2 separate regions of the Homo sapiens genome follow, and region 1 is linked to region 2. Evidence: fine-mapped expression QTL. A gene starts in region 2. The other region holds a variant in brackets. All regions are shown on one strand. Distances are from middle to middle. Region 1 overlaps PKNOX2 (PBX/knotted 1 homeobox 2). Region 2 holds the start of PATE2 (prostate and testis expressed 2).

Evidence for each region.
Region 1: its variant is fine-mapped to the expression of PATE2 in cerebellar hemisphere (GTEx, PIP 0.97).

Annotation. Positions count from the first base shown.
Region 1 is chr11:125,400,461-125,410,779 of GRCh38, reverse strand. PKNOX2 (PBX/knotted 1 homeobox 2) reads right to left here. Exons shown (of 13, transcript NM_001382323.2): 8 at 455-584; 9 at 1. Among named protein-coding and RNA genes, the nearest start is that of FEZ1, 91 kb to the left of the region's middle. RefSeq lists an enhancer at 827-2,026. The variant G/A (reference allele first, on the strand shown) is at 4,918.
Region 2 is chr11:125,774,157-125,784,413 of GRCh38, reverse strand. PATE2 (prostate and testis expressed 2) reads left to right here and starts at 5,586. Exons shown (of 4, transcript NM_212555.3): 1 at 5,586-5,692; 2 at 5,839-5,862; 3 at 6,412-6,540; 4 at 6,896-8,301. The coding sequence starts at 5,641. The coding sequence ends at 7,032.

The sequences.
Region 1 (10,319 bases), 370 kb after region 2:
CCTGAGGAGACAACCAGTTTTGGGGTCCCCTGCCATGGGAGTGGGTAGGAGCGAGGGCAAGCAGGGTTCCCAGTTCATTTGGCACTCATGTGTAAAGACCCTCTACTTGGAGCCCTTGGGTAGCGAGCTATGGCTTTCTGCTTTATGGGTGGGTGGGGGATGGTGTCTAGAGCCTAGGACAGAGCCTCTGGTGGGAGGTGCTTCGGGGAAGGGACAACAGCCTTACTTGGTCCTCTCAGGGGCTCATGAGATTTTGACCCAAATTTGTTCTAAACCATCACAATTGGGTCTTGGCGCTAACCGTCTATAAACTTACAGAAAACTTTAGTCAAGAAACTGAGCTGGGAGCCCCTCCCTCGGTGGAGGACAACCCCCACCCCTGGAACCGCCTCGGGGCCACCCTTTCTCCTCCCAGGGAATTCCCACAATCACCCTTCCCAGTCTTTGCACCGACCTGACACAACTTGTGAGTTGACGGTTGTCATGGCGATGTTGCCCTGCTGGAGCGCTGAGGCTGGGACCACAATCCCCTGGGGGTTATTGGAGACTCCGGACATGGAATTGGGGGAATTCTGCAGGAGGTCCTGGCAGTGAGGGAGGCGTGGTTTGTGACAATGACACTGAGAGCTTAGACCCTACAGCCCCAGAGTCCTCTTCCGTCCTTTCCCCTTCCTGCCTGCCCCCCTCCCTCCTTCTAGCTCCTCCCCAGACCCAGGTCCAGAAGGCAACTCTCTTGGTTTCCTAGAAAGGGTGAATAAGAAGGCTCAATTAAAAAAAACAAAAACAAAAAGAGTCACCCATTTAACCATTCCATTGCCCTGAAAACCTAAGGCACAAATTATCTGATAACCCCCATGGTCTCCTCCTTGGCTGTACTTTGAAATCTCCAGTAATGATGCTTGGGTTCCAATCTCAGAGAGTCTCATTTAATTGTTCAGGAGTGTGTCCTGGGCTCTGGATTTTTTCTTGATCAGATCCATCATATTCAATGGGCTCCGGGTTATTAAAAGCTCCCCAGGTGATTCCACTGTCAGCCGGGTCTGAGAAAATGGCTTCACCTGGTCGGCACCTGCTCATCCTTCAGCGACGCTTGTCTCCTGATGCTTTCCCGTCCCCCGGCTGCTCTCCACACACCTCCATCACAGGCCTGTCACACTAGGCTGCACACACAGAGCAGCCTCCAGCTCTCACCTTTGTATCCTTAGCACCTAGCTCAGGATACTAAAATACATGTTAAATAAGCAAATGAAAGCCGCCCTAGCCTTCCCATAACCTGTCTTCTAAGGGTGTCTCATATGAGCCTCAGCCACCTTCGGCACATGGCATCGATCCTGTTCTCTTCCTCAGGCTGCCCACAGGATTCCACTGGAAACAGACTCTCCTCTCCCCACACTGCCGACCAGCACGGAACCTTTGCCGCTTTTCTTTGCGTTAGCCCAGGCAGGTAAGACATGTTTTCCTGGCCCTCTGCTCTCCTCACCATTCCTAGTTAACAGCTGGGTAAAGAAGTCCTTGGACTTGCTGTGGAGCCCTCCCTGCTTTCTGGGGAGCCTGCACTGGGAGGCTGGGTGCTTGGAGAGAATTTGTGAGGAAGGAATAGGATGTGGGAGAGGTTAGGGTCTCTAGGTTCGGAGAAGAAAAAAGGCAGCGAGTGAAGTGTGGGAGCCTCAGGAGGCCTGCCTGAGTCTCTTAGCTCCTCCTAGCCACGGTTCCTCATCTGAAGACGGGGCTTGAACCAGTTAACAGGTCCAATGGCCATTTCGGCGACATTCCCATGCTCAAATGCTGGAATCGTAAGGCGTGAACTGCAAGGATTTAGAGACAGGTAAATGGTCAAGGAAATAGACAAAATGGGGCAAAAAAGAAGGCCCCAGCTTCCCGGTTTTTGTTTTAGGACTTGAAGAAGCTTGGGTCTTCAGCCTCCAGGGCAAGTCTAGGGTTTTGAGCCCGGAAATCTGTGTTTGGAGGAAACCTCGAGCCAGTGACTGCCTACCTGTAGCAACGAAGGGAAAGTGTTACAGCCCGGGGGACAGCCATGGCGAATCTCCTCCCAGACCCTGACAACACAGAACCTGGCAGAGCCTGTCAGGAAGTGGAAGTCGGCACTGATTTATACATCTCACTCGATTCAGCTGATTAAATCCCCCTTGGCGTCTCCTCCAGAGCTGCCTTTTTTTACTCTCCTGGGTTGTCTCTGGCCCAAGAGCTGGAGGAGTATTTCCTATAAATAAGCAGCGCCAGGAGGAGAGGAGCCAAGCACGCCCTCCTCCCACCCACCTGCCGCACGGGCCTCCTGGTGTGGCTCCTCCGGGTGGGTGGGGCGATGGAGGCCTTGCTTCTATTCTGAGCTCACCTCTGCTGCTGTGACCTTGGGGAACAGAGGGGGCAGCTCTTGCCTTGGCTTCCCCTTCCTGGGGCCCCGTGGGAGCCGCCTAGCCCGTGAAGCTTATACTTTGAGCAGAGCTCTTGGCCTTTCTGTTCCTGCAGTCGCAGTCTAAAATGGAGTCTGCCATGCAGAAGCCTAGAAACTGGAAGAGCCCCTGGAAGCCACACATTTCCCCTCCCTGAAGTACAAATAAGGCACTGAGGTTTAGAGATGCCTGGGACTTCCCAAGGCCACACAGCCCGTTAGCAGCCAGAGGACTAGAACACAGATCTCCTTCACCCACAAATGCCCCCTACACCGGTTCTGGGCTGCAAATGCTCCTTGAATCCTGCAGGTCAACCAATCATCATTGCAGGCAAGGTGAACAGATAAAAACAACTAAAACTCAGAAGTCCAGAAGCAGCGTGGGCACTGGAGGAAAGGCAATCTCGTCACCACCCTTCTGTGGGCCTCATCTCCTTATGTATACAGTGCATGTGACACCGGGACCCTCAACGCCTGAGTTTTCAGCGATGAGACTGCTCTGAGTTTGAGTTCTCCTTGTTCCAACATCCCAGCCTACCATTCTCATGGTGTGTAAACCGTGCTGATATTATATTTGAAGCTGAAGCAAACTCGGAAGGTAAATTTACTTTTTTTTTTGTTTGTTTTTTGAGACAGGGTAGAGAGTCTTGCTCTGTTGCCCAGGCTTGTCTCAAACTTCTGGGGTCATGTAATCCTCCCACCTGAGCCTCCTGAGTCATGGGATTACAGGCGTGAGCCACCACACCAGGCTTGAAGGTAAATTTAATGGGGGAGTGGGTACCTCCATGCCATTCACCTTAAAACCAGTGGAAGTGACTTCTCAATCCCTTGTTTGGAATCATCCATGCTAGCCTGTGCCTCTTCTGGTAGGGATATTTGAGAATTTCAAACATAAAAGGTTGTCCTAGACTTTCTTCACCCCCAAAAAAGTACCCAACAAGGTTAGAAAAATACAAGCAAAGTCAGTAAAATAAATACAAGATGTGTCCCTTGGGATTCAACCAACACACATTGTTTCCTAGCCAAAGGCAGAGGGTGAGCCACCACCTGGATGCTTCGTCTGCTTACTCAGACCCTGGCTGCTTCTCCACCTTGTGGCTTGGATACCCTCCATGCCAATTTACCCAATTTGGGTAACTAAGGGCAATTTATGCATTGGATCAGAGCCTTCTCTTTCCTACCCTTCTCTCCCTTCCCTGGGTCTTTGGCTGGAAGGTGCTGAGAGGCAGCCAGATTCTATCAGTGAAGGAATAAAATAAAAACCTTCAGAGATAGAGTCCAAGGGCAGGGCTGGGACTGGCAACGTTTTAGGTGGGGCAGGGAAGAGGAAGCAAAATTTTGGCATCCCGGAGGTCTGGGGAAATGATATTCATCCCTTACATCTGTAAACATGAGCTGCTTCACAAACCTGCCTTGAGTGTGCTTTTTTTTTTTTTTTTTTTTTTTTTTTTTAGACATAGATTCTCAGGGCCACTGGGTCAAGACCCTCACCCATCATCTAGCAATCTATATTTCTAAAAACTTCCTTGTGATGGTCCCAAAGATCGTACACGCTGAGTATGAGAGAGCTTTCACCACGCTGTTCCATTTTAATGTCACCATCACCCCATGGGGTCAGCAGGACTGTCCTATTTGCCTGAAGAGAGATTGAGGTCCAGAGAGGATGGAAGTGACTTCCCAGAGTCAAATAACTGTGCCTCCAGCCTAAGGCCTCTGGCTCTGAGTGTAGGACGAGTGCTCACAGAGAGAGGATATGTGCTTCGGGGTCAGACAGGCTCCAATGCAAGCACAGTGCCTGGCACATTTAGCCATCCAATAATTTATTTCCCACTTCCCTTGGCTAAGGTCACTCAACTAGGGAGTCGTACAGTTGGGATTTAAAAACCTGTCCTAGAAGCCTTCAAGCCACTTGAGTTCTTTACGTAGCAATGGAAGGGGTTCAGCTGGGGTTGCGCACGCAGGCAGAGTTGTGCAAACCTGGCTACATGTCTCCCTGTCTGAGATGTTCCTGGGCAATGGTCGAGTCCCAGGATCCTAAGCATCGTCTCTGACTAGCCCCACAACTCCACTTGGCTGCGATTTCCAGTCCAGGCTTAGTCTCTAGAGCCGTGGAATGGAGACAAGGAGGGTCTGACTCTCTTTTCTGAGGAAGGAACTTCCAGAGCAGCGGTGGAAACCCCGTGGGGAGCACATGTTGGCTAAGCACACAGTATTATTAGCTTTTTGACAGCTTCCCCTCAGGGCTTATCAGACTCCAAACCCAGGTAGATGCCACTGTGTCTAGACACAGAGTTGCTCCCCTCTAGGCTCCTTAGCACCCAGATGGAAGTGAGAAGAGTGTTTGGTACGGTTCTAGTTACTTTTTTCAGCACCCAGAGCCTCACATCCCTGCTGGAATTATCCAGGAACCTGGGGATGACAGCTGGTTATCCAGCCCAAGAATTCTGTTCGTTTTGTTCCACTAGGAAGACAGCCGTGGTGTCCCCAAGCCTCTGGAAACTGCCTGA[G/A]GCCTGGGAATCAGATGAAAACCAACACGCCGGGCTCCATGGGCACCCCTGGAAGCGGCCCCACTCCTGTTCCTTGTGTGCTGTTGATTGAGACTCAGAAGCAGGAGCCTCTCAGGAGGGGCAGAGCAAGGCAGGGCTTTGGGTTTGGAATGGCAGAGAACTGGTGCCTCCCGAGCACCATCCTCTGGGCCAGCTGCAACACCCTGGAACTGCGACTGCCACTCATTCTTCACAGACCTCAGTGGTCCCCAGGGGAGTTTTACTCCAAATTGCATTTGGAACAGCAGAAAGATGACTTGTTCCAAAGGAAGGCCTTACTAAGAAACGATGAGAAGCTGTGGAATGACTTTTGGAAGTGGGGGGTGCAGGGGCCCACATGAATGCACAGCGGTCTCACGTCAGCCCAGGAAGAGCTGTCTGTCCCTGTGAGCCACCGTGCTTCATTTTTAATAGGGAAAGGGCTTGAACTGCCCTGGGAAACTCAAGGAAGACTTCATTTCCACTCAAGGAAGGAATTCCTGGAAGAAACCAGAATGGGACAAAGACATGAAGGAGTGAAGGAGATAAATGACAGAAAAGTTTCTGTTTAAGCTGTTTTGAAATAGGTGGAATTTTTATCTTACTTGGATGCCTGTGAAACAGGGGAATGAACGGGATGGCCTGGCAAAGATCCTTCCAGCTGAGGACTGTAAAAGAGCCCATGCCATTTCCTAAGGATTGTGTGGGAGGGTGGGTGACGGTGAGTCGGTGGCCGGAGTGGGGTGCAGTGCGGAGCCAGCCCCAGCCACCTGCCATCCTCCCCCCGGCCACTAGAGGTCTCTGCTGATCCACCGGCTCAGACCACACTCACCAAAGCCTCCCAGAAGGCGCGTGCTGGCGGCTCCCCTGCCTGGGCTCGGGGCGGGTGGGGGTCGGTTCTGAATGTCTCCTTTCTGCTGGAAAGCTTGTCCTGACCTCTCCAGGGCACAGCCGCGGCCCGTCCTCTGGACTCTTCAAAGCCTCCCATCTGCCTTACATACTGGACACAACAGAATGGTTCTCTCTAATGCAGGCGTCGTCTTTCCCTAGCTTGGTGGCAGGCTTTTTGAGGGAAAGAGGGGTCTTTCTCTGAATTCCCCGAAACTGCTTAGCGCAATGTTAAGTGCATGGTACATGCGAGATACATGTGTGGTCTGACTTTGGCCTAAGGCTGTGGGTGTATTCCTGTGTGTGGTGGTGTGTGTGTGTTTGTGTGTGTGTGATGTGTGTGTTTGTGTGTGTGCCCGCGCAAATGTGCCTTAGGAGGGTGGAGAGGTTGTCCCTGTCCCCAGACACCCCTTCCCGGCAGCATCCCTCCGTTCTGGCAGAGCCAGGGCCCTGTCTTAGACCAAGAAAAGCCAGATTCCCAAACTCGGGAAAGCCAAGCACATGTAAACAAGCCACCTAATCCTGTTCTTGTTCCACTCCTGTTGGGGGCCTTGGTCTCAAGGGAAAGGCAGTTCTGGCCTGTGGGGACAAGCAGCAGCTGCTGCTCTTAAGGAACATTCCTTCTCAGGCGGGAGAAGCGCTCAGGTTTCACTAGCCTGGCGGCAAAGGCCACCCTCTGGTCTCTGGGCTCCACGGCTGCAGGGCTGGGGGTGAGGAACCGGCAGAAGAGACAGCTTTAATGCCTGTGACAGGCAGTGTGGCTCATTTTATTCCACTTCAGTCTAGGGATGCCCCCTGTCCATCTAAGTAGTGATCTTTCCAGGGTAGATTGCCCCCTACCCCAGCCCCATCCAGTCTTCTCCCTGGTCCTGTCCTCAGGATGCTTAGCCACTGGGCAGAACCTCTAGGGTCCTGGCTGAGGTGATGGCCCCCTACCCCTTCCGCCCCCTGCCAATCTGGAAAATCCAAAATTCCTTAGAGGTCAATAGGCAAGTGCCACCCTTCTCAGGTGGGGATGCATTGATTAGCCCCCTTCCTATTCTGCTGGGGAGGCGCAGAGCTGCAGAGTCGCATCTGGCAGCTGGGCCTAGCATCTCAGAATGTCCTCAACTTTGTACCTCTCATTTCCCTACTTCCAGTCTACTAGCAAATCCAAATTCTTGCTTCGTAGCAATTGGCTTCTTCCTCTGTAGTCCCTACCCCACTGACCAATAGCTAGGTAGGGTCATCACTCTCCACCCAGGTCCCAGGACCCCTGATTCTTCTCCCCATGTGTCACAAAAACATATCCCCATGTAGCAAGAAGAACATGGGCTCTGGAGTAGCCCATCCCGGACTCCAGCACTTGCTAGGTGTGTGACTTTGAGCCAGGGTCTTCACTTCTCTCAGCTTCTCTTTTCTTGGATGTAAAATGGAGAAAATCATGTGTACCTTGCAGCCTGTCATGAAGAGTAAATTAGATAATCTGTGGAAAGCACCTAGTACACACCATGTTTGAGACAGAGGGGAGCTCAATAAATGTTCACCGTCTCCCCTCCTTCTGCCAGCTCTTCTTGGACCAATACAAGATGTGGCTGCTCAATTGATTTGTCTCCAGCGTGTCTCCAGCCCTGACCCTGTTGCCTACATTCTCCACTACCTTTAAAGTCTTTAGCAGTCGGCCACCACTATTAGCCCCAAAACAGAACTCCCACACATTTGGCTTCAAGGTACTCCATCATTACACTTGGAGACCTGGGACTGTGTCGCATCCATTTTTTATATCCCCAGAACTCAGTAGGCTCCAGAGGTGCCTGAATGGATGCAGGATGCGTGAATGAATGAGCCCCCTTCACCCCATCTCCTCTCTAGGGATTCTGATTGGCTCTCTCTGTTTCTCGCCTTCTTTCAGACTTCTTGCTACATTGGAAACACTCACCTTTATAAAGGTTGCCAAATAGGCTACCAACTCTCACCAAGCCTGCCTGAAATGCCACCTCCCAGAGGAAGCCCTCCCAAGGCCAATGAATCTGTAACTTCTCCAATCACAATGGGCAAAATCCTCCTGTTGTCCTCTCCACTCTGTACTGAGGTTTGTTTATCCTATTGTGGAGCAGGAACAAACTGGCCATGAAGGTGTGAGGGCTGGGTCTGGGACTTGGTCCCCCTCTGAGGAAGGATGAAGGATGCTGAGTTGAGACTGGGGCAACCTCAAGCCACACATGTGGATCACCCAATCCAGAATCCCTGCCTGCAGCTCCTCTCCCCATCTCTTTGGCTGCTCCTTTCCTCTGTACTCTTGACCCTGAGCATTTCACGGCTGACATGATTTATCTAGATCCTCATTGTGACTCATGGCTCTCTCTCCCTGAGACTGGGAGCTCCTCTTGGACAATGGCTTGTGTCTGTTCTCACAGGACCTAGCACAGAACATACAGTGAGTGCCCCCCAAACGCTTGGCAATTGAATGAGAACCATGATTCAATCCAATTTGCCTGGAATAGAGCTGAGGCTTAAATCTCCACAGAGAAAAAAGGATGAATTTCAGGTCAAACTAATACTTGAGTGAGGTGTCTCTCTAGTGGAATGGTTCCATTTGCGCCCTCTAGGAAGGACAGGAGAACCCAGAGTAGGGTCTAGAACCAGTCTCCTTACAGAGGATCCTGCCCCCACAAGAAGCCTGGGCTCTGAGGAGTAGGAAGCCTGGGTGTCATTGGGTGCCTGCAGCACAGGATGGGTTCCTAGGGAGGGGGAAAATCTAGCTGTGGCCCAGGTCTTTGAAAGTCTGCTTTAGTCCCCTGCTTGGTAGAACAGTCTCCCTTACTTCCCATCTCCACTTTGCCCAGCAGAGAAGACTCACACAGAGAAATCGAAGGCCGAGCAGGAAAACGCTCAACCCATCGATCTGGATGGAGGACACGGCATAGCATCTGGGAGTGGGGATACCAAGTTGAAAACAAAAATGTCTCCCGCTTTGCAACACAAGGCTGGATGATTAGCACACAGGGAAAACCATGAGCCAGCAGTTTGCAACAAAGCTGGCAGGCGGCTGGAATGTTGATCCAGAGGATCATGTTCCAGAGGGGAGACACCCCTCCCCAGGCCAGGCTGGTGCTCAGGCTATTTCAGGCCGGGGGGATTAAGGGTGAACCATGACGAATGCATGTGCCCGCGTGTGCACACACATACACACACACACACACACACACACTCACAAGCTCCTTTTCTCTCTCTCATACAGGCTCCTGTGTCTTGAACCCAAGACCTGCCTCCTGCACTGAAAGTCTCGGTCCCCGATTCTTAGCAGCCCTGGGCCTCTCCTTCCTGGGAGAGCCCATGCAAGCCCGGCCCCTACCTTAGTGCAATAATGACAGGGGCCTGTCCTGGGAAGGCTTAAGAGACGTGTGAGTGTGCAAGTGGGCCGAGGGATGGCCAGAGAAGGCAGGAGAGCAGGTTAGGAAGCTCCTGCCATAGCCTATGTGTAATTACCGTATTTACCCCTGAAGCCTGAGCAAAGCAGGCAGTGGCAGTCAGAGAAAATGCAGGGGCAAGTTTGAGTAATACAACAGGAGCAGCACATAGCACATCCTCCTGACTTTCCCGCCTCCTCGTACCCTGGCTGCGCACTGAGCCACATGCATTGTCCTTTCACTTGCTGTCACTCTTGCTGCCGTTCCTCTCTCCGTCTGTCCTTCTGCCCCGTCGTTCTCAGTATCGTCTCCCTTTTCCTGGGTTTGTGTGCCTCCCTGTCTCTCTCTCTTGCTCTTTTCCTCCAATTCTTCAGCCTGTCTCTGCTTCCCTCCTGAATGTTGACCCTGCATATTTGGCTTTCTTTCCCTTTATTTTTCTTCCTATTTCTCCTTTCCTCCTTTGGCTTCCCCTTGCCCCTGCCCCCCACCCAACTTTCTTTCTCTCATTCCATTATTTCTTTCAATAAATACTTCCCGGCCATCTTTCTTGCACAAGACCTTGTGGTAGCCACTGCTGGGGTCACAGGGAGAGTACACTAGGACTCTGAAGGGATGAGTCTATTTCAAGAGACTATCAGCAGGCAGAGGCTGGAAATGGCTGTTTTTGGCCTATAATAAGGTGATTTGGTGATTTCAAACATGTAAAATACTGTCTCTGCTCAAAAAGTGTTATCTAGGATAGGAAAATGAGATGAACACAGGGATCTATAATATAAAGTCACAGTGACTTTTGCCATATCGATGGCTCAGCAAGCTCCACCAGTTAGTGGAGTGCAGGAAGCGTCCATTCTGGATGGGGCATCAGGGAGTCCTCCTGGGTGAGCAGCCTTGTTCCTACCCTTGGGGAAGAAGCTGGGTTTGGTTGTGCAGAGATGATGGGGTTGTGGGGGAGGTGTCACCCGAACAGACAGGCATGGAGTGATGGTTACAGCACCTTGAACAGTCAGATTGGCCCACCCAGGAAGGCTGAAGCCAGACCTAGGAGGGCCTTGAATGTCAGGTGGGCAGATGTGAAAGCCCTCCCTTCCACCCCCAGGGGCATGGCAA
Region 2 (10,257 bases):
CTGAGAATGATGGTTTCCAGCTTCATCCACGTCCCTACAAAGGACATGAACTCATCCTTTTTTATGGCTGCATAGTATTCCATGGTGTATATGTGCCACATTTTCTTAATCCAGTCTATCATTGTTGGACATTTGGGTTGGTTCCAAGTCTTTGCTATTGTAAATAGTGCCGCAGTAAACATACGTGTGCATGTGTCTTTATAGCAGCATGATTTATAATCCTTTGGGTATATACCCAGTAATGGGATGGCTGGGTCAAATGGTATTTCTAGTTCTAGATCCTTGAGGAATCTCCACATTGTCTTCCACAATGGTTGAACTAGTTTACAGTCCCACCAACAGTGTAAAAGTGTTCCTATTTCTCCACATCCTCTCCAGCACCTGTTGTTTCCTGACTTTTTAATGATTGCCATTCTAACTGGGGTGAGATGGTATCTCATTGTGTTTTTGATTTGCATTTCTCTGATGGCCAGTGATGATGAGCATTTTTTCATGTGTCTGTTGGCTGCATAAATGTCTTCTTTTGAGAAGTGTCTGTTCATATCCTTCACCCACTTTTTGATGGGGTTGTTTGTTTTTTTCTTGTAAATTTGTTTGAGTTCTTTGTAGATTCTTTGTCAGATGAGTAGATTGCAAAAATTTTCTCCCATTCTGTAGGTTGCCTGTTCACTCTGATGATAGTTTCTTTTGCTGTGCAGAAGCTCTTTAGTTTAATTAGATCCCATTTGTCAATTTTGGCTTTTGTTTTCATTGCTTTTGGTGTTTTAGTCATGAAGTCCTTGCCCATGCCTATGTCCTGAATGGTATTGCCTCGGTTTTCTTCTAGGGCTTTTATAGTTTTAGGTCTAACATTTAAGTCTTCAATCCATCTTGAATTAATTTTTGTATAAGGTGTAAGGAAGGGATCCAGTTTCAGCTTTCTACATATGGCTAGCCAGTTTTCCCAGCACCATTTATTAAATAGGGAATCCTTTCTCCATTTCTTGTTTTTGTCAGGTTTGTCAAAGATTAGATGGTTGTAGATGTGTGATATTATTTCTGAGGGCTCTGTTTTGTTCCATTGGTTTATATCTCTGTTTTGGTACCAGCACCATGCTGTTTTGGTTACTGTAGCCTTGTAATATAGTTTGAAGTCAGGTAGTGTGATGCCTCCAGCTTTGTTCTTTTGGCTTAGGATTGTCTTGGCAATGAGGGCTCTTTTTTGGTTCCATATGAACTTTAAAGTAGTTTTTTCCAATTCTGTGAAGAAAGTCATTGGTAGCTTGATAGGGATGGCATTGAATCTATAAATTACCTTGGGCAGTATGGCCATTTTCACGATATTGATTCTTCCTACCCATGAGCATGGAATGTTCTTCCATTTGTTTGTGTCCTCTTTTATTTTGTTGAGCAGTGGTTTGTAGTTCTCCTTGAAGGGGTCCTTCACATCCCTTGTCAGTTGGATTCCTAGGTATTTTATTCTCTTTGAAGCAATTGTGAATGGGAGTTCACTCATGATTTGGCTCTCTGTCTGTTTTTGGTGTATAGGAATGCTTGTGATTTTTGCACGTTGATTTTGTATCCTGAGACTTTGCTGAAGTTGCTTATCAGTTTAAAGAGATTTTGGGCTGAGATGACTGGGTTTTCTAAATATACAATCATGTCATCTGCAAACAGGGACAATTTGACTTCCTCTTTTCCTAATTGAATACCCTTTATTTCTTTTTCCTGCCTGATTGCCCTGGCCAGAACTTCCAACACTATGTTGAATAGGAGTGGTGAGAGAGGGCATCCTTGTCTTGTGCCAGTTTTCAAAGGAAATGCTTCCAGTTTTTGCCCATTCAGTATGATATTGGCTGTGAGTTTGTCATAAATAGCTCTTATTATTTTGAGGTACATCCCATCAATACCTAGTTGATTGAGAGTTTTTAGCATGAAGGGCTGTTGAATTTTGTCAAAGGCCTTTTTTGCATCTATTGAGATAATCATGTGGTTTTTGTCTTTGGTGCTGTTTATATGCTGGATTACATTTATTGATTTGCATATGTTGAACCAGCCTTGCATCCCAGGGATGAAGCCAACTTGATAGTGGTGGATAAGCTTTTTGATGTGCTGCTGGATTCGGTTTGCCAGTATTTTATTGAGGATTTTTGCATTGATGTTCCTCAGGGACAGTGGTCTAAAATTCTCTTTTTTGTTGTTGTGTCTCTGCCAGGCTTTGGTATCAGGATGATGCTGGCCTCATAAAATGAGTTAGGGAGTATTCCCTCTTTTTCTATTGATTGGAATAGTTTCAGAAGGAATGGCACTAGCTCCTCTTTGTACCTCTGGTAGAATTCAGCTGTGAATCCGTCTGGTTCCGGACTTTTTTTGGTTGGTAGGCTATTAATTATTGCCTCAATTTCAGAGCCTGTTATTGGTCTATTCAGGGATTCAACTTCTTCCTGATTTGGTCTTGGGAGGGTGTATGTGTCCAAGAATTTATCCATTTCTTCTAGATTTTCTAGTTTATTTGTGTAGAGGTGTTTATAGTATTCTCTGATGGTAGTTTGTATTTCTGTGGGATTGGTGGTGATATCCCCTTTATCATTTTTTATTGCGTCTATTTGATTCTTCCCTCTTTTCTTCTTTATTAGTCTTGCTAGTGGTCTATGAATTTTGTTGATCTTTTCAAAAAACCAGCTCCTGGATTCATTGATTTTTTAAAGGGTTTTTTATGTCTCTATCTCCTTCAGTTCTGCTCTGATCTTAGTTATTTCTTGCCTTCTGCTAGCTTTTGAATGTGTTTGCTCTTGCTTCCCTAGTTCTTTCAATTGTGATGTACACATACAATATTAACCTTAAATGTAAATGGGCTAAATGCTCCAATTAAAAGACACAGACTGGCAAATTGGATAAAGAGTCAAGACCCATCTGTGTGCTGTATTCAGGAGACCCATCTCACGAGCAGAGACACATGTAGGCTCAAAATAAAAGGATGGAGAAAGATCTACCAAGCAAAAGGAAAACAAAAAAAGGCAGGGGTTGCAATTCTAGTCTCTGATAAAACAGACTTTAAACCAACAAAGATCAAGAGACAAAGAAGGCCATTACATAATGGTAAAGGGATCAATTCAACAAGAAGAGATAACTATCCTAAATATTTAAGCACCCAATACAGGAGCACCCAGATTCATAAAGCAAGTCCTTAGAGACCTACAAAGAGACTTAGACTCCCACACAATAATAATGGGAGACTTTAACACCCCACTGTCAACATTAGACAGATCAATGAGACAGAAGGTTAACAAGGATATCCAGGACTTGAACTCAGCTCTGCACCAAGCACACCTAATAGACATCTACAGAACTCTCCACCCCAAATCAACAGAATATACATTCTTCTCAGCACCACATCACGCTTATTCCAAAATTGACCACATAGTTGGAAGTAAAGCACTCCTCAGCAAATGTAAAAGAACAGAAGTTATATCAAACTGTCTCTCAGACCACAGTGCAATCAAACTAGAACTCAGGATTAAGAAACTCACTCAAAACCACTCAACTACAAGGAAACTGAACAAGCTGCTCCTGAATGACTACTGGGTACATAACGAAATGAAGGCAGAAATAAAGATGTTCTTTGAAATGAATGAGAACAAAGACACAACATACCAGAATCTCTGGGACACATTTAAAGCAGTGTGTAGAGGGAAATTTATAGCACTAAATGCCCACAAGAGAAAGCAGGAAAGATATAAAATTGACGAGCTATTGTCTAATTTTATTCCTTACTGATATATTAAGTTACAGCCCCATCAGCAATGTATGACAGTGCTCATTTTACTCCATCTTGCCAACACAGTTGTGTTACTAAATTCTGATTATTGCAAATCTGTTAAGTAAAACTAATATCCTAAAATTAGGAGCAAGGTTCACCATATTTCATGTGTTTAAGAAGCATTTCTGTTTCTTTTTTCTGTGAACTATGACATTATTATTGACTGCGTCTCTCCCCTTTGAATTGTTAATCTTTTAAAAATCAATTTCTGGAATATCTTTGTATAATAGGGAGATTCGCCCTTAGTCTGAGATATGAGTTGCAAATATTTTTAATGGTTTATTTGTTATTTGGTCTTTGCTTATGGATTAATGATTGGTTTTCCATCTATGTAGAAGATTTTTTAAAAATATAGATAAACATATCTTTTTTATGGTTCTGTTTTTTGAGCCATATATAGAAAAGTAACCCTCACACTAGACTATAGAAACTCCTTCCATTTTATTTTCTGGCACTTCACTGTTCATTTATACCCTCCAGGTGGGCAGCAAGTCCAGGATATTAAACACGGTTTCATTGATTTTCTTTGTAAATCTGCCTAAGTAGCATAGCATTTCACTTTGAAATGTGAAACACTTGCTACCTACTATCTTGGGACCCTTGCTGGAATGTAGAAAGTCTCATTTCTTGTCTTTATTATAGTTCAAAAAACCAGTCTGATAAAGCTGGATGCTCTGTGGAGAATGGACTGGAGGGATGCAAGGCAGGATATGGGAAGAACATTATTAATTCCTCCCACAAATATTTGTTGGGCATTTCCTTTGTTCCCAGCCTCTAGATGCCAAGTGTGCCATGATAAACCAAAGAAACCCCTTGCTTTGTTCTAGTGGAGGAGTAAAAAAGTGAGCCAATAGCAATGTAAGATCAGCTTATTAGAATTGCAATGAAACATACCACAGGGAAAAAGGTAGGAAATGAAGGCTGTCATTTTCTAGAGATTAAGCAGAAAATGCTGCTCTGTCTGAGGGAGTGACATTTGAGCAAAGACCTGAGTGAGCCAGGGAAATGTGGAGAGAAAGGAGATTGGAGGGGAGGCCATTGCTCATAATGACAAAGCCATTGCCGGCTATGATAAAAACTCTGGATTTTCTTTCAAAGGTAATAAAAAGTCGTCAGAGTGTTTTCAGCAGGGGTGTGGCATCTATGACTTGTTCTCTGACTGCTTTATGAAGAAATGATTATGAAGGGGCAGAGGAGAAGCATGGAGGCCAGAAATAAGGCCATTGCTTGGTCCAGGCAAGACATAATAGACTGGATTATGGTAATGGCAGTGGCGACAGAGAATAATAAACCCATGTGAGAAGTTAGTAGGTAGAATGGATAAGACTTGCTGTTAGATTGCTCAATGAGGATGAAACACAAGAAGATGTAAAGAACACCTCCCAGATGTATTAAAACCTGCAACATTGTGAGGAGAGACTGGGCAGGACTGAATAACTGTTGGGTGCTATGTTCACTACCTGGGTGACGGGATCATTCGTACCCCAAACCTCAGCATCAAGCCATATACCCCTGTAACAACCCTGCACATGTACCCCCTGAATCTAAAATGAAAGTTGAAAATACTTTTTAAAACTCTGCAATATTGAAGTAGGAGCAGGTCTGGTGAATCAGGAACATTACCATTTCATTTTCATTAGAGGATTTGCACAAAATCAAAGTGAGTACCCTCTTTAGAATGCTGTGCAGCAATCAGATATGGTGGTTTGGCTTGGAACATTGCCATACTGCCTGTCCCTGAAATTTTATGATTATATAATTTAGATGACTAGCCCAAGGACAGATCACAAGAGAACAACTTGCTCCTTCCACAGGAAGCTGCACCTGACAGAAGCTCCAGGATGCTTGTTCTCTTTCTCCTGGGCACAGTCTTTCTGCTCTGCCCATATTGGGGTAAGTCCTGGAGACAGAGGGGAAGCTGGTGGTTGGTTAAGAGACGGACAGATGCTGGGGGAAGAGAAAGTTTTCAAAATTGGCTCTTGGGGCAGTGGCAGATGTATGTGAGACTGTAACATGGAAGGTTTTTCTTCTTTTCACAGGTGAACTTCATGACCCTATAAAAGGTACAATCATGGCTTCTCTGAAGTCCTTGGTAAACAGGCAATTTGTGACATGTTTAGGAGCAAACCTTTCCTTCATCTTCAGAGAGGCCTGTAATCCATTCTTATTATAGAATCCTAGGGGTTTCGCCTCCTGCCAGACCTGTTTTGTCCATTTCTTAGAGTAAGGAGGCTAAGATCCACTTTACTTTCTTTTACCCATTACTCGGCAAAATCATCAGGCTAGATAAGGGGTTCATTACTGGAGGTCCATGGATAAATTTCATGGGAACCCTGACCTCCTGAAATCATATACAGTGTTTGATTTATGTTTGTACAGGTTATCTTTCACAAGATTTTTTTAATTGGAGAAAATGTGTACAAATTTATTAATGTGTACATGGGGAGGACCGCAGCATGATTATCCCTATCTTTCTCAAGATTACCAAGAGTCCATGGTCCAAAAAATGTTAGGAACCACTAGGCAAGAATAAGGTCCTGTAGTGAAGCCCCCAGCCCCAGAGAATATTCTCAAGACTGCATCCTCTAAGCACCTCTTTTTGTATCTGGCAGCGACTGAAATAATGTGTTATGAATGTAAAAAATATCATCTTGGGTTATGCTATGGTGTCATGACATCCTGCTCCCTGAAGCATAAACAGTCCTGTGCAGTTGAGAACTTTTACATCCTTACAAGGAAAGGTAATGTGGAGTATAGAGTGACTGGAAAATCACCACCACCATCCCTGAGAAACAGTAGTGTTCTTTTGCCCTCAGCGTGAGTAGGTGAATGGGATGGGTGAGTATGGGGTGGTCTTGAGGGGATGGCAAAGACAGACTTTTCCCTAAGACCATATTGAGTGAAAAAGAGGCTGATGTCCCTTACCTGGCAGGGAATAAAATCTACTCTCTGGGTCAGCAATTAACAGACTCAGCTTTGGAACTCATTTGGGCCTAGAGAAAGGTTAGTGAGGACACAAAAACAGATTACTCCTAGGAACGCAGTAAAAGGAAATGAGGTCATTATGATCATATTTCCTCTCTTTTACCTCCTCAGGGCAGAGCATGTATCATTATTCAAAACTGTCGTGTATGACCAGCTGTGAGGACATCAACTTCCTGGGGTTCACGAAGAGGGTAGAGCTCATCTGTTGTGATCATAGTAACTACTGCAACCTCCCTGAGGGAGTTTAGTTCTACGTCTCTCCTGGATTTTGGGTTCTTTTTCAACCACTACGCTCTTTTTCTCTTCCCTGAACCTGAATTTTGCTCTCCTCTTCTATGCATTGGTAGAGAGTGAGAAAGCCAGCTCATAGTGAAAAGACAAGCAGGCATAAGGAGACGCAGTGTGGACAGCGGAGCCTATTGATGATGGAGCACTAGACTCACTCTTTGCACATCCCTGTCGCTAACAGGTGGGAGGGGTTTTGCTCTCCTTACGTGATACTGCCATGAATAAGCTCAGACTTGGTCATTTATTATCTCCTGTATGAAAATGTGAACACTTGGGCCATAATAATCTCCAATTTGTACTGAGAATTCTGTGACTATCCTCTATCCTCATCTACACACACACTCCTCTCCGTTGGAATTCTCTTTGGATTAGCCCTGACACTTTCTGGCACTGTCCTTTTCTGCCCGTGGGTTCTGGAGAGGGCTAACCCCAGCTTCCCAGTGTGTTGGCAGCATGGGCCAAGTCTTTCTCTGATAGAGCTCTTGGGGGAACCTCAGGGCAGAAAAAAAAAAACTGAACAGACATAGGGATGAGCATCAAAGAAAACTTCAGGGGGCATTTCAACTGGTAAAAACTAAGATCTGAGAAATAACTTGCTGTGGGTGGAATTGGCTTGAATTATCATTGCCCTGGCTGGCCAGGCAGCCTTGGGCACATGGTTGAACTAGGTGATTGGATTGGGAACAGAGTGTTTTTTTAAGGATGGCTAGTCAGGTTCTTCTCATGGGACTGAGCAAACAAAATGCTGATAATGTGGCAGGTGGTGTAGTAGTTGAAGATAATAGGATGTAAATAGATACCATGAGGTAGTGTTCAAGTAACAGAGTGCCCTGTGTAAGAGGAAGTTATGAGTTTGCAGAAAGTGTGAGAAAGGTAGCATATATGGGTAACAGTGGTGGGAAGAGAAGAAGGAAGACACAGAAACAGATAGGAAGAGAAACTGAGTAGCATTGATGTTGGAGCACACCTGTGGCCAAGGTGGCACATTTTCCTTGGATACACACTAACCCTGGTGTTTCTGTCCTTATAAGGCTGACTGCACCCTAGATGACGGGTTGATGGGTGCAGCAAACCACCATGGCACATGTATACCTATGTAACAAACCTGCATGCTGCACTTTCTTTCATGTATCCCAGAACTTAAAGTAAAATAAAAAAATAAATAAATAAATAAAGGCCAGAAAAATTGGCCAAAAAATCTGAATAGAAAAAGATATACAGATAGTAAATGAGCATATGAAAATATGCTTAACATCATATCTCACTAGGGAATTGCAAATTAAAACAACAATATTACGCAACTATACATTTTAAATGGTCAAAATCAAAAAAATAAAAAACCCTCACAGTAGCAATTTTTGTCAAAGATATAGAGCAATAGGAAATCTCATTTATTGCTGGCAGGAATGCAAAATGGTAATGCTGTTTTGGAAGACAGTTGGTAGTTTCTTAGAGAGGTGATTATACTCTTGCTATGTCATTCAGTAATCATGCCTTTAGATATTTACTCAACCAATTTGAACAGTTATGCCCACACAGAAACCTGCACACAAATGTTAAAATCATATTTATTCATAATTGCCTGAGACTAGAAGCAATAAAGATGCCCATCAATAAGTGAATGGATATGTAATCTATGGTACATCCAAACAGTGGGATGCTACTCAATGATGAAAAGAAATGATCTATCAAGCTATGAAAGGACATGGATACATTTTTAAATGAATATTGCTAAGTTAATGAAGCCAGTCTGAAAAGGCTACATACAGATGCTCCTCAACTTATGATGGGGTTATATCCTGTTATAACAATTGCAAGTTGAAAATACTGTGAACTGAAAATGCATTTAAAACACTTAACCTTCCAAACATCATAGCTTAGCCTAGCCTACCTTAAATGTGCTCAGGATGTTTACATTAGCCTATAGTTGGGCAAAAGCATCTAACACAAAGCCAATTTTATAATTGGCTTTGAGTATCTCATGTAATTGAGTATTTCATGTAATTTATTGACTACTCTACTGAAAGTAAAAAACAGAATGCTTGTATGGGTACTAAAGTATGGCTTCTACTGAATGCTTATTGCTTTCACACATCTTAAAGTTTAAAAAACTTGTAAGTCAAATCATTGTAAGTCTGGGAACATGTGTACTCTGATTCCAATTTTGTAAAAGACCAAAGTATAGGGTTGGTGAAAATATCAATGACTGCCAGTGGATTAAGAGGAAAAAAGGGATTGAATAGGTAAAGTATAAAAGATTTTTTAGGGTGATGAATCTATTCTGTATGATACTATACCAGTAAATACATGACACTATGCACTTGTCAAACCCCATAGAACTTTACTGCACAAAGAATGAAACAATGTATGAGAATTAAAAGAAAAATCATTTAGGAAGTCAGAGGATTCCAGGAAGGAATGCACAATGTGACAAAAATGATGTAACTGTTACAAATGTGTGAAACAATCTCTCTGAGTTGAGTTGGGGGAAAAGTTTCTGATCTGAGTAACTTTGTAAATGAGTGGAGCCTGTAAGCTTAAAGGCAAAAGAAAATGTACACAAGCTCTGCACTCTACTTGATAAAATTGTTTTCCCCAAGGTTATAGGTTAATAATTCTGATACTGCTCTACAGGTACACTGTAATTGAACTCCTAAGCAAATGAATGGGGGCTGGGGGAATCCAGGTTTCTCACTGTTGGAGTTAGAAGTTACAGATAAGCAAGAGAAAGGTGCTAGAATGATCAATGAGGTAATGAATTAGACATCAGTATGAATTCATATTTAGTTAAATATAAATACAGATTATTTATAAATATGTATATAAAAGAAATATTTATAAATATGTATATTTATGAGTTATTATACATACATATATTTCCTTGCTCTGTCAAATAACAATAACAATAGTAATGAGTACCCCTAGCACCCAGACTGTGGTTTCTAATACCATTCTCAAAAAAAAAAAAGAAATCAGAAGTCCTTGGAGAAATGGCTGATTGTAGGACTGGGGCAGGAAATTAAATGAAGAGAAGATGAGCCTGTAAATCTGAGGGAGTATATCAGAGGGAAATAGGAACAAACAGAGAGATCTCCCCATGGCCCAAACTGGATCAATTTGAATGACAAAATAAATGAGCCCAAAGGTTAAAATAAATTACCATGAATACAAGATGAATGCATAAA